2 separate regions of the Homo sapiens genome follow, and region 2 is linked to region 1. The links come from fine-mapping of genetic effects on gene expression. A gene starts in region 1. The other region holds a variant in brackets. All regions are shown on one strand. Distances are from middle to middle.

The links. PIP is the estimated chance that this variant, and not a neighbour inherited with it, causes the effect.
Region 2: its variant is fine-mapped to the expression of ZFP91 in aorta (GTEx, PIP 0.96).

The regions. Positions count from the first base shown.
Region 1 is chr11:58,574,251-58,584,981 of GRCh38, forward strand. ZFP91 (ZFP91 zinc finger protein, atypical E3 ubiquitin ligase) reads left to right here and starts at 4,813. Exons shown (of 11, transcript NM_053023.5): 1 at 4,813-5,372; 2 at 10,606-10,634. The coding sequence starts at 5,032. LPXN (leupaxin) reads right to left here and starts at 1,606. Exons shown (of 9, transcript NM_004811.3): 1 at 1,510-1,606. The coding sequence starts at 1,522. It overlaps ZFP91-CNTF (ZFP91-CNTF readthrough (NMD candidate)), which reads left to right and starts at 4,864. Exons shown (of 13, transcript NR_024091.1): 1 at 4,864-5,372; 2 at 10,606-10,634. RefSeq lists enhancers at 1,479-1,538, 1,549-1,598, 3,287-3,336, 3,567-3,646, 3,667-4,186 and 3 more and a silencer at 4,867-5,286.
Region 2 is chr11:58,377,482-58,388,212 of GRCh38, forward strand. It overlaps the pseudogene OR5B15P. Among named protein-coding and RNA genes, the nearest start is that of OR5B17, 24 kb to the left of the region's middle. The variant TA/T (reference allele first, on the strand shown) is at 5,661.

The DNA.
Region 1 (10,731 bases):
AACAATATAAGTTTCTGTTAAATCTGGGTTACTTCATTGGACAGACACCAGAACCAATAAACTTCTAAAATAGGAGAGCACCTTGTTGCTTAGTTTTGGTGTCAGGTGTTCCCGACAGTGACATTGAAAAAGTTATTTTGTTTTTCTTAGTTTTCTCATCTGAAAAAGAAGTGGATAACACCTATTTCAGAGGGTTGCTGCAGACACTAAAATGATTAACATATGTAAAAATGTCTAGTTTTTGCTTGATTTACTAAATAAGTATTAGTTTCCTTTTGAATTATTTGCCATGAAAGCCTTTCGGTGTCCCCTCCATCCCCCCCAAAAAAAAGAAAGAGAAAAAGAAAAAAGGCCCTAGCACTACTAGAACTCAAGCAGAAATTCACATTCTCCCAGCACTCACGTAGGATAAGAAATAGAATTCTACCCCAAGTCCAAAAAAGAGTCTGGCCCAATATCAAAATAGACTTTACCTCCAAAGCAGTTTGATATTTATTAAACACTACCTTTTTCTCTTCATTAACATCTCTTGCCTCCTGGTAATTTGCCCTTTACTTTTCCTCTGTTTCTCCAGCTTTGAAATCACACGCCATTTTTTTTAAGACAATGTAACAATGTGCAAGATATTTTTTGTTGTTGTTTTTTGCACTTTTGACATACCCTATCCCCAAACACACCCCAAACCAGGACACTGTGGAATTAATACAGTTTGGAAATTGGGTATAGTTTAGTGACTCAGTGTTAGTTAAGATGCTGGCAACAGATGTTGGCAAAGGCTATGGAATGAGTCCCAAGAATGACAAACCTTACATTACTCCAAAGGTTTGAAATCCAGGATTTCTCTGGTTAATATGGTTAATAGTTCCACTGCTGGTTTTAATTGTCTTAGAGTGGAAGGAGGTGTCATATTTTCAGGCCCTAGTAATCTCTTCCTTCAGAATTCTTCTGAATAAAAAGCTTAGCAACAAAATCACTAGAGTTAGAGTGCTATGCCTTCTTGATTTAATACTAAAACATGGAACAAATGAAACCACTCTGGCCTTTTTCCAACCTCTACAGATCCCTCATTCTTATACTTCTAGTCCGTCTTTTCTTCCTCATAACACCCCAATTCCCTTTTTGCTCTTTCTTTTCCTCCTCAAATCATATCTCTGCATTGTCTCGCTATGTGGCCACCCTTGATCTCCAGTGACCTCCAAAGGGCAAAACGCCCATAACAAGACAACAACTGCAGTAACAATCCAGTCCAAAAGTATTTGCCAAGAGTTTATTCCGCGGTTAGCACCAAACTCTCCATCTATTTTGCCACTGCAAACAGTGAACCCATAGTTCCCCAAAACAATCATAGTTCCTCATGCTTCACTCTTGGCAGGGCTGAGGACAGGAAAGAAGTGAAAATAAAATCTTCCATTACTACCCTCAGTCTAGCCAGAAGTATACCCCACCACACAAGGAGATGGCAGCCAAGTCTTCACTCCCTCAGAGTTTCTCCTCAGGCTCCTCACTCACCTAACTCTTCCATTGTCCTACATCCAAGATGCTCTTGTCTCACAGGCCGTGAGGAACAGCTTTGGCATGTGCTGAAGAAGAGGACCGCAAAGGAACTGGATGAGACAGCATAAGGCAGCCTCTATAAACCTTTTTGGTTCCTGTATTTGCTTAGCACTTCCTCTCTTTTGATTTGGTGAGCTTTTTTTTTTTTTTCATAGGTTACACAGTTTTAAAAATGTGACTGACATAGAAAGGTAGATAGTAAGATTTGCATTATGGCAGTGCATTGGCCAGGGTGATAAAGATTCAAAATTAATTTTGCAAAATTTGAGGACCTACTCTGTGCCAGGATTCATCTTGGATTCATGGGAATGGCAGACTTATACTTGCGTTTTTTCCAAGTGTAGGTACCCCACTCTGAGCATCTTTCTTTTTTCTTTTTTTTTTTTCTGTGAAGCTGGGAGACACAGAGGCATAGTCTCCTTCTTAAAATTTGCATCAGAGTTGACCAGCATCCATTTCATTTTGTTGTCTTATTTATTCAGAAATTATGGTTATCTGCTTTCCTGCATGGAACGTAAATCCTTAAAAGTAGGGCAGAAGTGGATTCATGCTTGGATTCTCAGGGCCTGGTTTACTCAGTGGTCCCAAAAGCAAACATCTATAGGGTGGTCACAAAGAAGGAAGCCAGGTTTGACACCAGATGTTAAACTGTGTGCATCTCAATTAAGCATAATCCCTGCCTAGATACACTGCCTTATAGCAATTTCTTTGGAAAGTAACACTGAGGTTAACTCTTCACCTTTTTTACCACTGTGATTTATTCACCTTGAATTAAACATTTACAAAAGGCCTACTATAAAAAAGCAATACGTAAGGAACTATAATTATGGCCCTGTGAAATAGATTTTTTCCCCCTTTTTACCAATGGTGAAATAGGTTCATGTAATAGCAACTTGCTAAGATAATTAATTGGTAGCTTTGCTACTTACTATAATTGCAAAGTCTGGGATCTTTCCTCTACAACACCGTAGCCTTCTTTACTTTTTTTAAGACAAGCTCTCTGTCACCCAGGCTGGCGTGCAAAGGTACTATCATAGTTCAGTGTAACCTCCAACTCGAACTCCTGAACTCAAGCGATTTGCCCTTCTCAGCTTCTGGAGTAGCTGGGACCAGAGGTGCATCCCATCACGCCACCAGGTTAGCTTAAAAGCTTTATTTTTATTTTTTATGTAGAGGGTGGTCTCCCTATGTTGCCCAGGCTGGTCTGGAAGTTCTGGGCTCAAGGGATCCTCCCACTTTGGCATCCAAAAGCGCTGGGATTCCGGGGGTGAGCTACCACATCCAGCCCACAGTGGCTTTTTTTTTTTAGGGAATAATTCATTCTCCATTCCACTGTCTGTACATTTTTTTTTGAAAGGAGATTCCTCCTCTGTATTACTTTGAGCATCCATTGGATGTCAGCACTGTTCCTTCCAAAAGTCTGCTCACTACAAACTCAATCTTAAAAAATTTCCATTGACACTATGCCAATCGATTATTACAACTGAAAATGACATTAGCCCTATGAAAATGGAAAATACTCAGTAGAGAATATAAAACATTTGTCTAATATGAAGTGGTATCTGAGTCAAAGTACTGGAAGGAAAAATGTACTTCAGCACTTGTCTACAGTTTAACTGAATGATTAATGTGAAATTTAAAATTGGATCCCCAGATCTTGTTTCCAGCTTCTTTCTTTTGGGACTTTTAGCCCTGGATGCCTTATTTTCCAGGGGTAAAGGATGTTCTTGCAAATCGTTCCTTGATTGTAATGGATGAAAAGAAAAAAGAAATGGGAGAGGCCCACTGCATCACCAACTGCAACGGAAATTCCCTTTGATGAATCAGGAAGACAAATTAATGTCATACGCTAGCGTGCAGAAAAGTAACCTCTGATAAAGTTGCTATTGTATAAACCGCAGAAGCAGATGGCTTCCGGCCGCAGAGCTTAAGAGACCCTTCAGCTTCTCGGTGTAGGTCACCAGTCATGTCACGCTCACAACCCTTTCGCCTCCCTCTAGGTCAGGCACCGCATCCAAGTTAAGCAACCGACGCCGGCTCCTTGGTGTCCCAACAAGGTCTAGTAGAAAAGCAACTTTATAATTCGTTTCACAGATTTGATTAAGAGCCAACTGAGTAGTGGGCCTTGTGCTAGGGCTCCGAGGGCCCAAGGACCCCATGGAACCAGATTTAGTCGCTGACCTCTAGGAGCTCACAGGTGAGTGACTCACACACCGGAAGACGAGATCAATAATGTAGACATGAACGCTGGCTAGCCAGTCCCAGAGGAGGTGTCATCTGACCAAACCAAGGCAAGTCTGGGCAGTTACGCAGACACCCCGAGAAAGGTACGCCAACGCCCAGATAAAAAGTAAGAAAAAGTAGGAAAAACCCTCCCATCAGACCAGCAATTGGCTCGACGCTTGAGCCCGGATGTACGGCACGCGTCGCGACCTAACCCGGAAACACTGCCTCCCGAAAAAAAGGTAAACTCTAGACTGCGGAAAGTAAACTACCTTTCCCGTCGTGACTCAGTTAGAACCTCCCGGCATCCTCTCCACCTCTGGTTTCCCATCTATTTTTCCTAAAGCCTAGGCGAAATAAGACTTCATCTCCCAGAATGCCCTTGGTTAAGTTAACGGTGCGCATGCGCCAAGAGGCGGGCCCTCGTTGCCCCCACAACCCCGCCTCCGTTTTGCCGCCGCCATTTTTTCAGAGACTTTCATCCGGCAACCGACGGGGCTTTTTTTCTTAAAGGAGAAGCGACAGCTCAAAATACTACCCCCTTCTCCGCGCAAGATCTGGCGGCGCTGGGGACAGAAAGGCCAAAGACAGGAAAGTGGGGTAGGGTGGAGGCGGAAGAACGCCCAGGCTACTTCTGCGGCCTAAAGAAGAATAGAAAGAGCCCTTGTGGTATCAGTGGCTCCTCAGGGAGGCAGGTGCGCGCGCAGCCAGTCTAGGGTTTGCGTGAGGCGGGGAAAGAGGTGCGATTTCTTCTCACCCGCCTCCCTCGCGAGACCTGCCCCTCGCACTGCCCCTAGCGCGCGTTGAAGTCTGGAGGGGGGAAAAAGGTCACTTTGGGATTGTCGCGAGACACAGCCGTTTAACGGTGAGAACGGGTGCGCGGGGAAGGAAACCTCGCGCGCTCCCCTTTTAGCCGTTTCCTGATTGGCTGAAGGAAGGGGTGGGGGAGGGAACCTGGGGCGCCGCTGCGTGTAAGACTGCGAGGGGCGGGGTGAGGAGGCTTGTCCTCTTTTCCGATTGGCCCGCTGAGCGTCTGTGGCGCGCGCGCGCGCGCCGCCAGCGGTAGCGGACCTTGAGTGGCAGGGGGTGGGGGGGGCGCCCTCGGAGCCGGGCGGAGGGGAGGGGGGAAAGAGGAGCGCAGGGTGAGAGTGAGCCGCAGGCTTCGGGAGGCGAGGGGGCGGGGGGAGCAGCGCCGAGGCCGCCGCCTCCGCCTCCGCCGCCTAGGACTAGGGGGTGGGGGACGGACAAGCCCCGATGCCGGGGGAGACGGAAGAGCCGAGACCCCCGGAGCAGCAGGACCAGGAAGGGGGAGAGGCGGCCAAGGCGGCTCCGGAGGAGCCCCAACAACGGCCCCCTGAGGCGGTCGCGGCGGCGCCTGCAGGGACCACTAGCAGCCGCGTGCTGAGGGGAGGTCGGGACCGAGGCCGGGCCGCTGCGGCCGCCGCCGCCGCAGCTGTGTCCCGCCGGAGGAAGGCCGAGTATCCCCGCCGGCGGAGGAGCAGCCCCAGCGCCAGGCCTCCCGACGTCCCCGGGCAGCAGCCCCAGGCCGCGAAGTCCCCGTCTCCAGTTCAGGGCAAGAAGAGTCCGCGACTCCTGTGAGTAACAGTCTTTCAGGCGGTGGGAAAGACCCCCCTCTGTCCGTACGCAACCCTCTCGGCTCCCGTAGCGCCTACTCCACGTGACATCCTGCCTGGTCTGCCCCCTGCCGGCTCCGCACGCCAGATGTCACACCGTTTCCCCGGGAGCCTTCGTGCCTCCTCTCTGCGCCACCCTCATCTCGCTCCTGTACCTTCGCTTGTCGGGCCGTTTCCCCACTCCCCGAAATCATCTTTTGATACACCCCTGCACTCGCTAGTGATCCACCTCCTCCCTGACACCCGCAGGCTCATCCCTCTTTCTGGCATCCGCACCCCCTTTGTCACCCTATCCCTTTCCTTTAGGCGGCTCTCCAGTATTACATCACATGCCCTTTAGGGAATACACAGCCCGATCATAGCCTTCAAAAATGATTCCCCCCCGCCTTCGCGTTAGCTCAAGAGCCAGATGTACTAGTGTGTTTATGTAGCTTTTTTTTTTTTTCACTTTTCTAAATTTTTCGCAACCCTTCTCATTCTTTTGAGAAATTTGCCACTTATTATGGTCAGGTTAAAAGCCCACTGCTACGATTTTAAGTATGGAGTCTTTCATATAAAATTATATGAGCATTCTTTAATGTTTGTTTTTACTAAGTAGCATATGTTTTATCTTTGTGTTTCGTGTTTTTAAATGTAGGAACTTCATCCTTGAAATTAGAATCATCTGAGAGGAATTCCTTTATTACCTAGACGTAATAGAGGAAACATGAACAGGTGGCCAGGAGCATTGTCTTAAATTGTTCGTTAAAATAATACTCATGTTAAGAATACTGAAGCACACAAGTTTGTAAATTCTAGAAATTAATCACATTGACTATTCAATTCATGACTGAAAACATCATTAGTGACCTTTGATTTTTGAGTGAAAACAGATTAGTAAAAACAGAGAAAATTGAAGTGAGGGGGAGTCAGTTTTAAGTGTTCCCTTTCTTCCAGTAGAGATAGTGGCAAGGTTTGACTTACACCAGACCTAATAGATTTAAAACTTGAAACAGACTTGGTCCAAAATTAAGAGTTAAGCCTGTGTCTTGGCATGCTTGCCTTAGAAGCCTCTCAGAAAGAGAAATAAAATTCAGAGGTAATCATATTGTGGTATTAGATATGCTTTCAAATTTTTGAATGTCAGCTAAGTTAACATAATTTAGAGAATTTGTTGTAAGAACTGCAGTTCTGTCGACAGCAAAAATCTGTACTTACAGATTCAGCTGCAATTAGACTTCTAATTGCTGTAGATGCATTTCATCTTACAAAAATTTTATAGTTCTATATTGTTTAATCTCATGAATTTGAAAAGATACATGTATATCATTGACCTCATTTGGATATGAATTCCGTGAGCAAATTCCTTAACCTACCCATGCCTTAGTTTCCTTACCTATAGAGGATAATCTCTGCAACGTGAGTTTGTGAGAATTAAATACAGTGTGTAAAGTGCTAGACACAATGCCTGTTGTAAATACTAAGTACAAGTTGCGTTTTTCAGTAATGGTGGGATGGTAGATCCTTGAGTGGTTTGTAGTGAGGTTTTTCATATAAATTATGCAAAATATGATTTTTTCACTCTTTAATATTACTATTCGTAGAGAGGGTAATACTTAAAATATTTTTAAAATTTCCTTTTATTCTCACCTACCCCTTGAAAATTAAATATACCTATATCTCAAGATAAGATAATTATGTCTAAAATGGTACCTGCTGTTTAATTTCTTTTTTTGGAGATGGAGTTTTTGCTCTGTTGCCCAGGCTGGAGCAGTGCCACGATGATCTCTGCACACTGCAACCTCCGCCTCCTGGCTTCAAGCAATTCTCCTGCCTCGTCATCCCAAGCAGCTGGCATTACAGGCGCCCGCCACCAATCCCAGCTAATTTTTGTAATTTTAGTAGAGGTGAGGTTTCACCATATTGGCCGGGTTGGTCTCCAACTCTTGACCTCAGGTGATCCACCCGCCTCAGCCTCCCAAAGTGCTGGGATTACAGGCGTGAGCCACTGCGCCCAGCCTGCTGTTTAATTTTTGAAGGAAAATAAATAATTTTTATCTAAAACAGTAATTTTACCTGCTGTCATGATTTATTTTTGCCCTAACTCTTGGCAACAAAGTACTAGTGACGCTTTAATTCCATATAACTGTTACTGTTGTATATGGATGAAGATGACTTAATTAAATTCCTTCCTTTTTTCTGCACAATGTTCCTTGTGGGGAGGAAGAAATAAGGCTGAATTCTTAGCGCCACCCGCCTCCCATCCAATATCATTAGAAAACAGTAGTGACAATGGCATTCTTCTTTCAGCCCCAAAATTATCTCTTGACTGTGTTTTTGATCAGGTTGTTAAACAAATTTTCGTCATAATAGAGTTTTTGTTACACATTTTTACCTTATTCCATAATCTGGAAATCAGAGGAATGCTAAAGCATTTTAGCTTGGCAAACTTGTTTCATCAGTATCTGGGCCTGGTACTATGCTGAACTAGGTGGTAGAAAGAAAAATGAGACATGGCCCTCATCTTCAAGGACCTTGGGGTGTAAGGCAAAGATGCATTAATTAGTGGAGATATGTCAAATGTGTGTATGGTATACAGATTTTCAGTCATAAAATACATTTTAAGACTTAATTTTTTCTACATAATTTAATCCTTTAAGATATTTCAAGAGGTTTTGAGTCCAAACCCTGGTCTGGTATCTTTGACTTTGAGTCATTTCTGTTTTCCAAATGACATTTTGAAAATTTTAAAAAGGAAGGTTTATTCTGTATTACTTACTTGTTCGCGCTAGTCCTTTTTCCATATCCCAGCATTTCCCTGTATACAATCTTAGTAATCAGCTGTTTAACCTACATTTGATTTTCTTAATTAAAGTGATAGTAAAGTATACCATAGTTTAAAAGGTCAAGAAATAGATAGATTTGGATTGGTTGAAACCTCTGTTCCCATTGGAAGGCAAAATAATAGAGTGGATAAAGCATTGGACTTTAGTCAGAAAGTTTTATGTTCCAGCTTTGTACTGTGCAGTAAGTGGCCTTGAGCAAGTCACTTAACCTCTTCATTTATAATTGCTTCATTTATAATTGATATTTTATGAATTTGCGAGATGACATATTTAGCTTACAGTTTTTATAATCTGATGTTTATAACAACTTCTTTTCACAATGAACTATTTAGGGGTTATTGGGAAGAGGAAATATTTGTGGATGAAGGGGAAATAAAAATTTTTCATTGTGCTCAAGAGAAGCACAGAGTTAAATGCTAGAATCATGATAAATTGAAGCATAGAAAGCTAGTAGGAAAAATAAACCAAATTTGAAGAAAGTTTATGTATCCATACTAAGAGTAAGACTGATCATTTGCTGTATGTTAGCCAGTAAATTACAGTTATTTCAAGTGCACGTTTATATACTGTCTTTAATTTTTGAAGTAAAATCTAGTAGCATTAGTATACTAGTTTTTGCCTATGATTTTTTTCTGATTCATCCATGCGTTCTGCTAGTAGGGAATGAAATTGTCAAATTAAGACTAGGTTAAAATGTATAAGGCTTTTTTTCATTCTTACATGTAATAGCCCTTCATTTATCCTGTGCATTTCAAAACTTAAAACTTTAGGGACAAATACTTTTTAAAAATTCTAACTTCGCTGTTGAGTAACCATATTAGCTAATACTGAGTATTTTTAGATGTCTTCCTTCAGGTTCAGATTAAGGAAAGTAGTTTTATTTTCTAGTATGTGAAATTCCATTTTTGGTATATTTTCTTGCTAAAATTAAAACAGTAATAAACCTTTAGGTGACCTTTCTTGCTGTTTCCCTTTTGAAGGTCATGGATAGTGAGGATGAAGAGGTGGTAATATTCTGAATTGAAAAAACTTACAGTTCTTTGGAGAAGCCTTCAGTTGTACAAGACTGAAATCCTGTGATCAGGATCTTAATCAGTATGATGATAGAAACATTGAACCAACTTTCAAGGTTTTTGGAAAAGTTTGTTATATAATTTTTCAAAAATTTAGCAATTATTTCTGCAGTTTTTATTTAAAGATGGGATGATTAGCAGTTATGGTGTGTTAATTGGGACATTGGTAATGTGATTTAAAATAAAATTATAATACCAGTCTTTTTTAAAAAAGTATGGAACAAACAGTGATAACTATTGTTTCTAAGTAGAATAGATTTTTGTATTACACTGTGGCTTCTGTATTTGTCTGGGTATTTATTTATAACATATTGTAACATAATAGAGTCTTTACTATATTAGGTTTACTTTTGGGAGGAGCAACAACAAAAAAACTTTGTACTGTTCAGAGATACTCTGTGGTATCTATATGATAAATGTTCAGGGCCTGTTGACTTTTGAATTTTAGTAGTAAGTATAGGAAGTTCATTATACTGTCCTCACCAGTTACGTATGAGAGAAATTTTTCTGAATGAAAAACCTGGGGATATGTCTGATTTTTGTTGTTTTGGGGGTTTTTAAAAAAATCTTCAGGCTATAACAATTTTTAAGCTCTTTACTGTTGCTTTTTAATTTGTAAAGGGCAAGTTACATTTACTTGTGAGGTCCACCTATTGTCTTTTTACAAGTAGATTTTGATTTGGTCTTAACAAACAATTTTAGGGTCTTTTTAACACTTCATTGAGTTTTTATTATGAAAATTGTTAAATATACACAAAATAGGGAAAATAGTATAATGAAACCCCAGTATTGATCACCTAGCTGAGATTTTGCCATGCTTGCTATGTCCATCCTCCCTGTTTTGGCAGAAGTATTTTGGAGCACATCCCAAACATCATTTCATCTCTAGTTAGTACATTTATATAAAATAAGAACATTTTCTTATATAATCACTTAATGTAACAAAATTAGTAATATTTTCTTTGTATCAATATCTTAGTTAAAAATAGGTGTTTTGAATGATATTCTAGCTCTGTGCTGTCAGTTATGTAGCCACATGTGGCTATTTAAATTTACATTAATCAAAATTAAAAATTCAGTTTCACAATTACATGAACTGTTTCAAGTGCTCAGTAGCCACATGTGACTGCCATATTGGACAGTGCAGATATGTTTCCATCACTGCTGAAAATTCTGTAGGACAACACTAGTCTAGATGCTTTCTTTATCACTCTGGAGGTGAACCTGAAAGAGATATTTATATTTTCAGAAAATGTGCTAGATTGTTCATTAATGTTTGATTCTTATTTCTTTCAGATGCATAGAAAAAGTAACAACTGATAAAGGTAAGACTTGGTCATCCTTACCTCTAGCGTACATTACACTGATTATCTTTTAATCTGTTAGAAAGCCTCATCATTCAAATTGGTTCCCATTTAAAAG
Region 2 (10,731 bases), 200 kb before region 1:
TAAAACAACCAGAAAACAACAAAATGACAGACATAAATTCTCACCTGTCAATACTAACTTTAAACATAAATAAATTGAATATCCCAATTAAATACATAGACTGGATTAATGAATTTAAAAAATACCAACTATATACTGTCTAAAAAAACCCCACTTCTTCACTAAAGACACAAAAAGATTGAGAGTGAAGGAACGGGAAAAGTTTTTTTATGCAAATGAAAGCCAAAAGTAAGTAGGAGTAGCTATAATTATATTTAATGAAACAGATGTTAAGTCAAAAAATATAAAAAGAGACAAATAAGATCATTATATAAGCATAAAAAGATAAATTCAACAAAATGATTTAAATTATAAATGTATATGCACTCAACACCAGAGCACCAGATGTATAAAGCAAATATTATTAGGTTTAAAGGGAGAGATAGACTCCAATACAATAATATTTGGGGATTTCAACACCCACTCTAGGCATAGGACAGATCATATAGGAAGAAAATCAACAAATAAATATAAGATTTAAACTGCACTATAGACCAAGTAGACTTATCAGACAAACACTTCATCCAGTGGCTGAAGAATAAACATTTATCAGCTCATGGAACATTCTCCAGGATTGGTCATATGTTAGGCCACACAACAAGCTTAAACAAATATTTTAAAATTAAAATTATAGCAAATATCTTTTCTCTCCACAATAGAATAAAACTAGAAATCAATAATACTAGGAACTTTCAGAAAATGTACAAATGCATGTAAATTAAACAATGTGCTCCTGAATGACCATGGGTCAATAAATAAGAAGAAAAATTTAATATTTCTTTAAAAACATAGCAAAATTATGGGATACAGAAGAATCAATATTAACAGGAAAATTTATAACAATAACAATAAACACCTACATTTAAAAAGTAGAATTTTTTCATATAAACAATCTAACAATATACCTTAAGGGAATAGAAGAGTAAGAACAAATTAAATGCCGGATTAGCAGAAGAAAAGAGATCACAAATATCTGAGCAGAAATACAATTGAGACCAAAAAATAATTAAAAAGATCAACAAAACAAAATGTTGGCTTTAAAAATTTGAGCAAAATTGACAAACCTTTAGCTAGACTAACCAAGAAAAAAAAGAGAGAGAAGACCCAAGTAAATAAAATTAGAAACTAAAAGGAGACATTACAACATATACCCCAGAAATACAGAGAACTACTAGAGGTATTATGAACAACTATAGGCCAAGAAATTGGAAAATGTAGAATAAGTGGATCAATTCCTGGACACACACAATCTGCCAAGATTGAACCACCAAGAAATAGGAAAACTGGACGGACCAATAGTGAGTAAAAAGATTAAATCTGTAATTAAAGTTTTCTAGAGAAAAGAAAGTCTCCAAAGGAAAGCCCAGGACTAGATGTCTTCACTGCAAATATGCTCATTGCTATGCTATTTACAATAGCAAAGACATGGAATCAACCCAGATGACAATCAATAGTAGACTGAATAAAGAAAATGTGGTAAATATACACTGTGGAATGCTACACAGCCATCAAAAAGAATAAAATCATGTCCTTTGCAACGACATGGATGGAGCTGGAGGACATAATCTGAAACAAATTAATGCAGGAACAGAAAACCAAATACCACATGTTCTCACTTATAAGGGGGAGCTAAGCATTGATAACATATGGACATAAATATAAAAACAATAGACATTGTGGACTACTAGAGGATGGGGGACAGGTTAAAAAACTACTTATTGGGTACTATGTTCACTACCTGGGTGACAGGGATCCACACTCCAGACCTCAGCATCATGAAATATACCCATGTAAGAAATTTGCATGTGTACCCCCTGTATCTAAAATGAAAGTTGAAATTAAAAAATGAAGAAGAACTAATACTAATTCTTCTCAAACTATTTCAAAAAATTAAAGTAGAGGAAAATCTTCCAAACTCATTCAATGAGGCTGTATTACCCTCTTATCAAAACCAGGCAACGACACAACAAAAAAGAAAACTACAGACCAATATCCCTGATGAACACAGATGCAAAAATTCTCCACAAAATGCTAGAAAACAAAATCCAACGGCAAATCAAAAAGATTATACACCATGATCAAGTGGAATTTATTCCAGGGGTGCAAGGATAGTTCAATATACGCAAATCAATAAACATGCTATATCACATCAACAGAATAAAGAGCAAAAACCATGTGATAATTGGAACAGATGTAGAAAAAGCATTGATAAAATTTAACTTCCCTTCATGATAAAACTATCTTCAAATTAAGCATGAAGAAATGTATCCCAACACAATAAAAGCCATATATAACAAACCCACAGCTGACATCATACTGGATGGAGAAAGGCTAAAAGCTTTTCCTCTAAGAACTGAAAGAAGTGAAGGATACCCATTTAACCACTCCTATTAAACATATTACTGGAAGTTCTAGCCAGAGCTGTTAGGCAAGAGAAAGAAATAAAGGGCATCTAAATTGGAAAGAAGGATGTCCCTGTTTGCAGCCACATAATCCTATACCTAAAGACTCCACCATAAAAAACCTGGAAATGATAAATGAATTTGATGAAGTTGCTAGATAAGAAAATCAACATATAACAATCAGTGTTTTCTACACATTCACAACAGACTAGCTGAAAAAGAGGTAAACAAAGTAATTTTATTTATAATAACTACCAAAAAACCTACAAATAAATTTAACCATGGAGGTGAAAAATTTCTACAAGAAAAACCATAAAACATTGATGAAAAAAATTGAAAAGGACACAAATAAATGGAAAGATATCCCATGTTCAGTGATTGTAAGAATTAGTCTTGTTAAAATGGCCATACTGTCCAAGGCACTATACAGATTTAATGAAATGCCTATTAAAATTTTAATGTTTTTTTCACAGAATAGAAAAAAACAATCCAAAAAACCATATGAAACCACAAAAGACCCTAAATAGTGAAAGAAGTTCTAAACAAAAAGCACAAAGCTAGAGGCATCACAGGATGTGGCATCAAAATATACTACAAAGCTATAGTAACCAAAATGGCATGGTACTGGCATAAAAGTAGACACATATACTAATGTAACAGAATAAACAACATGTAAATACATTCAGGATTTTATAGCCAACTAATGGTCAATAAAGACACCAAGAACACTCACTGGGGGAAAGGATAGTCTCTTTAATAAATGGTCCTGGGAAAATTAGATATCCATATGTAAAAAAAATTGGACATCTATCTTTCATCACATATAAAAATCATCTCAAAATTGATTAATTACTTAAATGTGAGACTCAAAACTCTGAAACTACTAGGAGAAAACTTGGAAGAAATGCCTCAGGATATTGACCTTGGCAAAGATCGTATAGTGAAAACCTCAAAAGCACAGGCAACAAAAGCAAAAATAGACAAATGGGATTATAGCAAACTAAATATTTCTATACAGCAGAGGAAACAATGAATAGAGTAGAAAGACACCATGAAGAATGGGTGAAAATATTTGCAAACTATTCATTCAATGAGAGGGTAATATCTAGAATATACAACAAACTCAAGAGCCAAAAAACAAATAACCCAATATAAAAAATGGGCAAAAAATCTGAATAGATATTTATTAAAAAGAGACATACAAATGGTCAACACATATATTTTAAAATGTTCAGCATCATGAATCATCAGAAAAATGCAAATCAAAACCACAATGAGATACCATCTTGCCCCAGTTATAATAGCTATTATCAGAAAGATAAAACACAAAAATTATGAGGATATGAAGAAAGGGAAACTCTTACACACTGATGATGGGAATGTAAATTAGTATAGCCATTGTGAAAACAGTATGGAGGTTCTTAAAAAAAAAAACTAAAAATACCACTGCCATATGATCCAGCAGTTTCACCATTGGGTATATACCCAAAGGAAAGGAGATTGGTATGTCTAAAAATATCTGTAACCCCATGTTTATTACAATGTTATTCTTAATGGTCAAGATTTAATATCAACTCAAATGTCTATCAACAGAAGACTGAATTTAAAAATGTGATGCATATACACGATGGAATACTATGCAGCCATAAAAGAACAAAATTCTGTCATTTGCCTCAACAAATGGAGGAGTCTGAAGGATGTTAAGTGAAATATGCCAGGTACAGAAAGGTAAGTACTGCATGTTCTCATTCATATGTGGAATCTAAAATTGTTTATCTCATAGAATTAGATAATTAATTAGTGACTCTTAGAGGCTGGGAAGGCTAGGGAGGAAGGAGGATAAGGAAAGGTTGGTTAACACACAAAATTACAGCTAGGTAGGAGAAAAAAGTTCTAGTGTTCTATAGCACTGTGGGGTGGCTATAGTTAATAAGGATTTATTGTACATATTCAAAGAGCTAGAAGAAATGATATTTGAATGTTCCCAACACAAAGAAATGATAAATGTTTCAGATGTTGGATTTGCTAATTACTTTGATATGATCACTGCACATTGCATAAATGCATCAGAATACACTGTATCCATAAAAATGTACGATTGTTATGTTTCAACTAAAATACTAATAAAAAGAAAGGGACACATTAAGGCTCAAAAATAATAAAAATTAAAGATTAAAATCATACTATTAAAAATATATCAAGGGAATAAAGTAGTATGTTCTTTCCAGGGGCAATAGAGTAAATATTTACAAGTGGGGCTCTGTCACATATGCTGTGCAACCTTAGGCAAGTGTCTTAGATTTTTTGTGTCTCAAATACCTCATCCATAAAATGGAGATTTAAAAACTGTATCTTGTATGATTGTCAAGAGAATCAAATGATTCACTGTGTGTGAAGTGTTTTAAATAGGGTCTTCATTAAGGTGAGATATTGCTGTTATGTTTTCAAAAATAGATAAATTGTATTTGAAAATTACAAACTTTTGGGCATCAAAGTACATTATCAAAAAGTGAAAAGGAAATCTACAGAATTAGAAAAACATTTGCAAATTATATAAATACATAAAAAATCCTCAATATCATTATTTATCAGGAGAAATTTAAATAAAAACTACCAGGAGATACTATTTTATAATCCATTAGGATGGCTATTGAAAAAGAAATGGAAACTAACAAATATTGGCATGGATGTAGAGAAATTGGAGCCCTTATAAATTGCTGGTGGAAATGTAAAATTGTAGAGCTGATATGAAAAACAATTTGTTAGTCTTCAAAAGTTAAACTCAAATTACCATATGCATGAGCCATCCTACTTCCTGTTATCTACTTAAAGAACAAAAACAGTTCTTCAAATAATGCTTTCCCACAAATATCCATAGCATCATTAGTAAAATATTAACAATTGCTCAAAGGTGAAAACACCCCAATGTTCATCAACTGAGAATGGAAGAACAAAATGTAGTACATATGTATGATTAAATATTACTCAGCTGTAAAAATAAAATATTAATACATGTTACAATATGAATGAGCCTTGAAAACATTCTGTAAAGTAAAATAAATCATACATAAAAGGTCACATATTATGAGATTACATTTATGTGATCTATACAGAATTGGTAAATCCATAGAGATTGAAATAAGATTATTGGTCCCCAGGGTCAGGGGGCTGAGGGAATGAGGGACTACTGCTTAATGAGTATGGAATCTTCTTTGTGAG[TA/T]AAAAAAACTTTTGAAATTAGATATATGTGATGGTTTCACAACTTTATGAATGTACTAAATATCAATGAATTATATACTTTTAAATAATCAATTTTATTTTATGGACATTTCATATAAATTAAAAAGGTGGAGTCAGGGAAAAATTGCATAGGCATAAAATGGAGAAAAGAACCTGACTGCGAAGGGAGAGATCAGACTGATGCAGACAAAAGTCAAGGAATGCTGGCAGCCACCTGAAGATGAAATATGCATGGAACTGATTATTTCCTAGAGATTCTGGAGACTGATACCTTGGTTTCATTCTAGTGAAACTGATTTTGGACATCTGACCTCCAAAACTGTAAGAAAATAAAATGTGTTGTTTTACTTCCCTAAGCATGTGGTAATTTGTCACAACCAAAGGGAACTAATACAAAATCTTTGTTGTGTTAAACCATTGGGTTTTCACTTAATGTGTTACTGCAGTAAAATCTAGCATCTTTTATTACCTATCTTCTTGTTTTCTACAAACAGATGATGAGTTTTTCCTATTAGTTCTCCTTATTATTCATTTACTCATTCACTAAAATCTTTTACTGAGCCCCAACTCTGTTCCAGGCATGAATCTTTGTTAGTGACCAAGTCAGAAATTGTTCCTGTATGCATCAAGCTTTTATTCTTGTTGAAAAACAAATTTAAGTAAACACACACAAATAGATAACTTTGTATTGTGATCAATATTATGAAGGAACAGATAATAGAGATAAAATTGGATAGGCCTTTTTAACATTTAATATGTAAATTTGTTCCTTCACTGAGTTGCCATTTTATTAGACACTCTTGAGTCCTTCCATGTAATCAACATCAGATCAGACTAATATCTGAGAATAATGACTGAGTAGTGCAGCTACATTTATAAAAATGAATCTATATAATTAATAAGTGTTTCAATAGTTCTATGGAGAAGGGTGACAAATTAGGTGATGAAATGACATAAGAATAAGAAAAGGAATAGAGAGAAGTAATTACTAACATATTTTGAACAGCTATTCTGTTTCAGGCACTGTGCTGTGTTCTCACTCATTCAGTACCCATTCAAAATAATTCTATGAGTAGGTGGTATTTTCACAAGTAGAATCTCAGAACATTTAATTAACTTGACACTTGTCACAAAGCTTTGTTGAAATGGAATTCATATGCAGCTTTATTCTGTGTTTCAAATCTGTGTACTTTTATTTGTGCTTGTCATTTTAGTCATGACTTGGAGAATGGATAAGGATTTAAAAATAAACAATTGTGGAATTAAATTGTGATGGAGAAATTTGACACTTTTTCCGTTATATGCTGTCCAGCCCCATTACCTACAAACAGTATCCAGATTGTATTATGAAAGTCTGTCTGTATTAGTTAGGATAAATAACGCTAGCTGCCATACAAGTAAACTCGGAAATTACAGTGGCATGATCATAGAAGATTTTCTTGCCCACAGGTTATTCAATTAATTGTTCTATAGGAATTCACACAGAGATTCAATGACCCAGGTCTTTTCACTAAGTGATTCCATTATCCCCCGTAGTCTGAATTTTGTCTCTCCAGATGGTGACAAAGAGAGCATACAGAGGACTACATGAAGAGTATCATGGGCCAGAGTTGAAATGGCATATATGACTTCACAAATTGGATTGTCAAAAATACAATCACATAGCCACAAAGTACTGCATAAAGGCTGAGAAACAGCCTAGGTATGAGTACAGTAAAAATAAAATAGTTTGGAAAACAACTACCAGTCTTTTCCATTGTAATACTTATGATCATCCAATATCCACTTTATACTTCTTCCCACAGAAAGAACATATTATCTACCTCCCCCAAAGAGACCACCTAAATCCCAACTAGTCACCATACAAGCTCAACCTCAGGTTAAATGGTCTTCTCCACATAATCAGGATGTGGCTCCTTGTGGTTCAGCAATTTATGAACCAAAAAGAAAATTTAGCTCCTTCTACATTCACATCCAATACATAAAGTCATACCAGAGTAAAGATAATTAGCAAACACATACACAGACACACACACACACACACACACACACACACACACAGAAAAAAGTCATCCCCATGTATACAAGACAGTAATGGGAGGCACACTGGTTGGTTTTAAAATCTTACAGAATTGGCATTATGAAAGTCCCTCACCCAAGTAATGATATATATTTTTTTATGAGACCCTGATTTTTTTCTCTGGGGAAAACTCCATTTTCCATTGTTTTCCTTGGCTGCTGGTGTAATCTCTTCAGCATTTCTCTTCTTATCCATTATTCTTCATTACCATTTCTGAAGTGTGTTGAACACAAAATCCTGTCTAGCACAAAATAAAGGCAATTTATTAATAAACTTGCAGCAAGGAAACCATCTTCTATTATTTTTACTTCAGCAGGATTGCAAGTGTGTTAGAAGGGACAGTAAGCTCATTGAGTAAAATGGAATAAATACTGAACCAGTGAATCATTGGCAACCATCTTATTAAGATAAGACTTTTGGAAGGGGTAGAAACAATAATTGGTCTTCAGGTACATTTGTCAGTCCTTAGTTGGCTACAAGGTGAAAAGCAAATGGTTTGGAGAATTTCTTTTTTTTAATTTTTTATTAATTTTAATTTTTTATTTTATTTTATTATTATTATACTTTAAGTTTTAGGGTACGTGTGCACAATGTGCAGGTTTGTTACATATGTATACATGTGCCATGTTGGTGTGCTGCACCCATTAACTCGTCATTTAGCATTACGTATATCTCCTAATGCTCTCCCTCCCCCTTCCCCCAACCCCACAACAGGCCCCAGAGTGTGATGTTCCCCTTCCTGTGTCCATGTGTTCTCATTGTTCAATTCCCACCTATGAGTGAGAGCATGTAGTGTTTGGTTTTTTGTCCTTGCGATAGTTTACTGAGAATGATGATTTCCAATTTCATCCATGTCCCTACAAAGGACATGATCTCATCATTTTTTATGGCTGCATAGTATTCCATGGTGTATATGTGCCACATTTTCTTAATCCAGTCTATCATTGTTGGACATGTGGGTTGGTTCCAAGTCTTTGCTATTGTGAATAGTGCCGCAATAAACATACGTGTACATGTGTCTTTATAGCAGCATGATTTATAGTCCTTTGGGTATATACCCAGTAATGGGATGGCTGGGTCAAATGGTATTTCAAGTTCTAGATCCCTGAGGAATCGCCACACTGACTTCCACAATGGTTGAGCAAGTTTACAGTCCCACCAACAGTGTAAAAGTGTTCCTACTTCTCCACATCCTCTCCAGCACCTGTTGTTTCCTGACTTTTTAATGATTGCCATTCTAACTGGTGTGAGATGGTATCTCATTGTGGTTTTGATTTGCATTTCTCTGATGGCCAGTGATGGTGAGCATTTTTTCATGTGTTTTTTGGCTGCATAAATGTCTTCTTTTGAGAAGTGTCTGTTCATATCCTTCACCCACTTTTTGATGGGGTTGTTTGTTTTTTTCTTGTAAATTTGTTTAAAATTTTTTTTTTAAAATTTTACTTTAAGTTTTGGGATACATGTGCAGAACACACAGGTTTGTTACAGAGGTATATGTGTGCCATACAAGAATTTTAAATTCAAGCCTCATAGCTTTGTTACAGTAAAATAACTAGATTAGGTGACCACTCATAGGGAATTTCCATTCAAGTCGAAGATATGATAAACAGGTGAACAAATAATACCGGAGTTTAATGTTGATAATGATTTTGAAGAATGAAGTAGGCTGAGGAAAGAAGGTCCATGGGAGGGGAGAGGCTATATTATGAAGTAGTTCAGGAAAGGCATGATCTGCCTGGGTGGGTTAACATTTAAGCAACAATATTAAATGAGTATGGAAATTTTCTGAGCAGAGGAAACAGCAAATAAAGAGCTCCTAAGACAAGAGCATGCCTAGAGATGTGGGCCCAACCAAAGCAACGATGGTGGCACAACAATTTCAAAACATTTACTGCCAAAAAAGAGAATAGCATTATTATTAATATCAATGCTTTTTTAAAAAACAAAATGTGAAGTTGGTAGTCATATGGGTAAGGTAAAAGATGACAATATTTTCTCTGCTTTTATTCTAATTTGACTATCTTTTCAAGGTTGTCATGTGAATATGCTTTCTCTCACCAAATCACTACATAATGACTGAAACATTAATATTAAGATACTGTAATTATTTATATTTAGATAAAATGTGCCAATAAAAAACTATACTCTATTAAAACCAGTATCATATTTCTCTCTATTTCGCATGCTTAGAGCTATTTCTCAACTAAAGAAATTAATAATATAATAATATAATATAATACAGAAAGCTATTGCATAAGGTGGATCTAAGAGGGATAGAATGACTTTTTATGGATTTTACATTATTAAAAGACTAAACCCAGAAAATATTTTGTTTCCTCAACAAACAGTCTTGAATGCACTCTTGACCTCGTTGTTTCTCAGGCTATAAACCACAGGGATTAGCATGGGGATAACCATAATATGAAACACAGATACAATTTTTTCTGTGTTCATGAAATGATAGAACTTGGCTGCACATATGTGATGAGGACAGTCTCATAAAATAAAGGAACTGCAGTGAGGTGAGAACCATAGGTAGATAAAACCTTCTTGTATACTTAAAGAGAGCATCTTTAAAATGGTGACAAATACAAATACAAACAAGCAGGAAATCAAGATAACTAGGAGGGTAAAAAATATAGCTTGAAGTAGGAACAAGGATCAACTCATTAATATGTTTATTAGAGCAAGTCAGAGTCATGACTGCCAGAATATCACAGAAAAAGTGATGGATCTCATTGGACATAAAATGTCTCCAATGTCAACAGCAGCAGTCAGTAAACCTAAGACATGCATGTATGGCCAGAGAAGCACACACATTTGTTGTCATGGTGGTGGTGTAATGTAGGGGTTTACACATTACTCTGTAGCAATCATAGGCCACTGAAGTCAAGAAGTAACTTTCCACAGTAGCAAAGACTGCAAAAAAGAACATCTGAGCAGCACATACATTGTAGGAGATGACCTTGT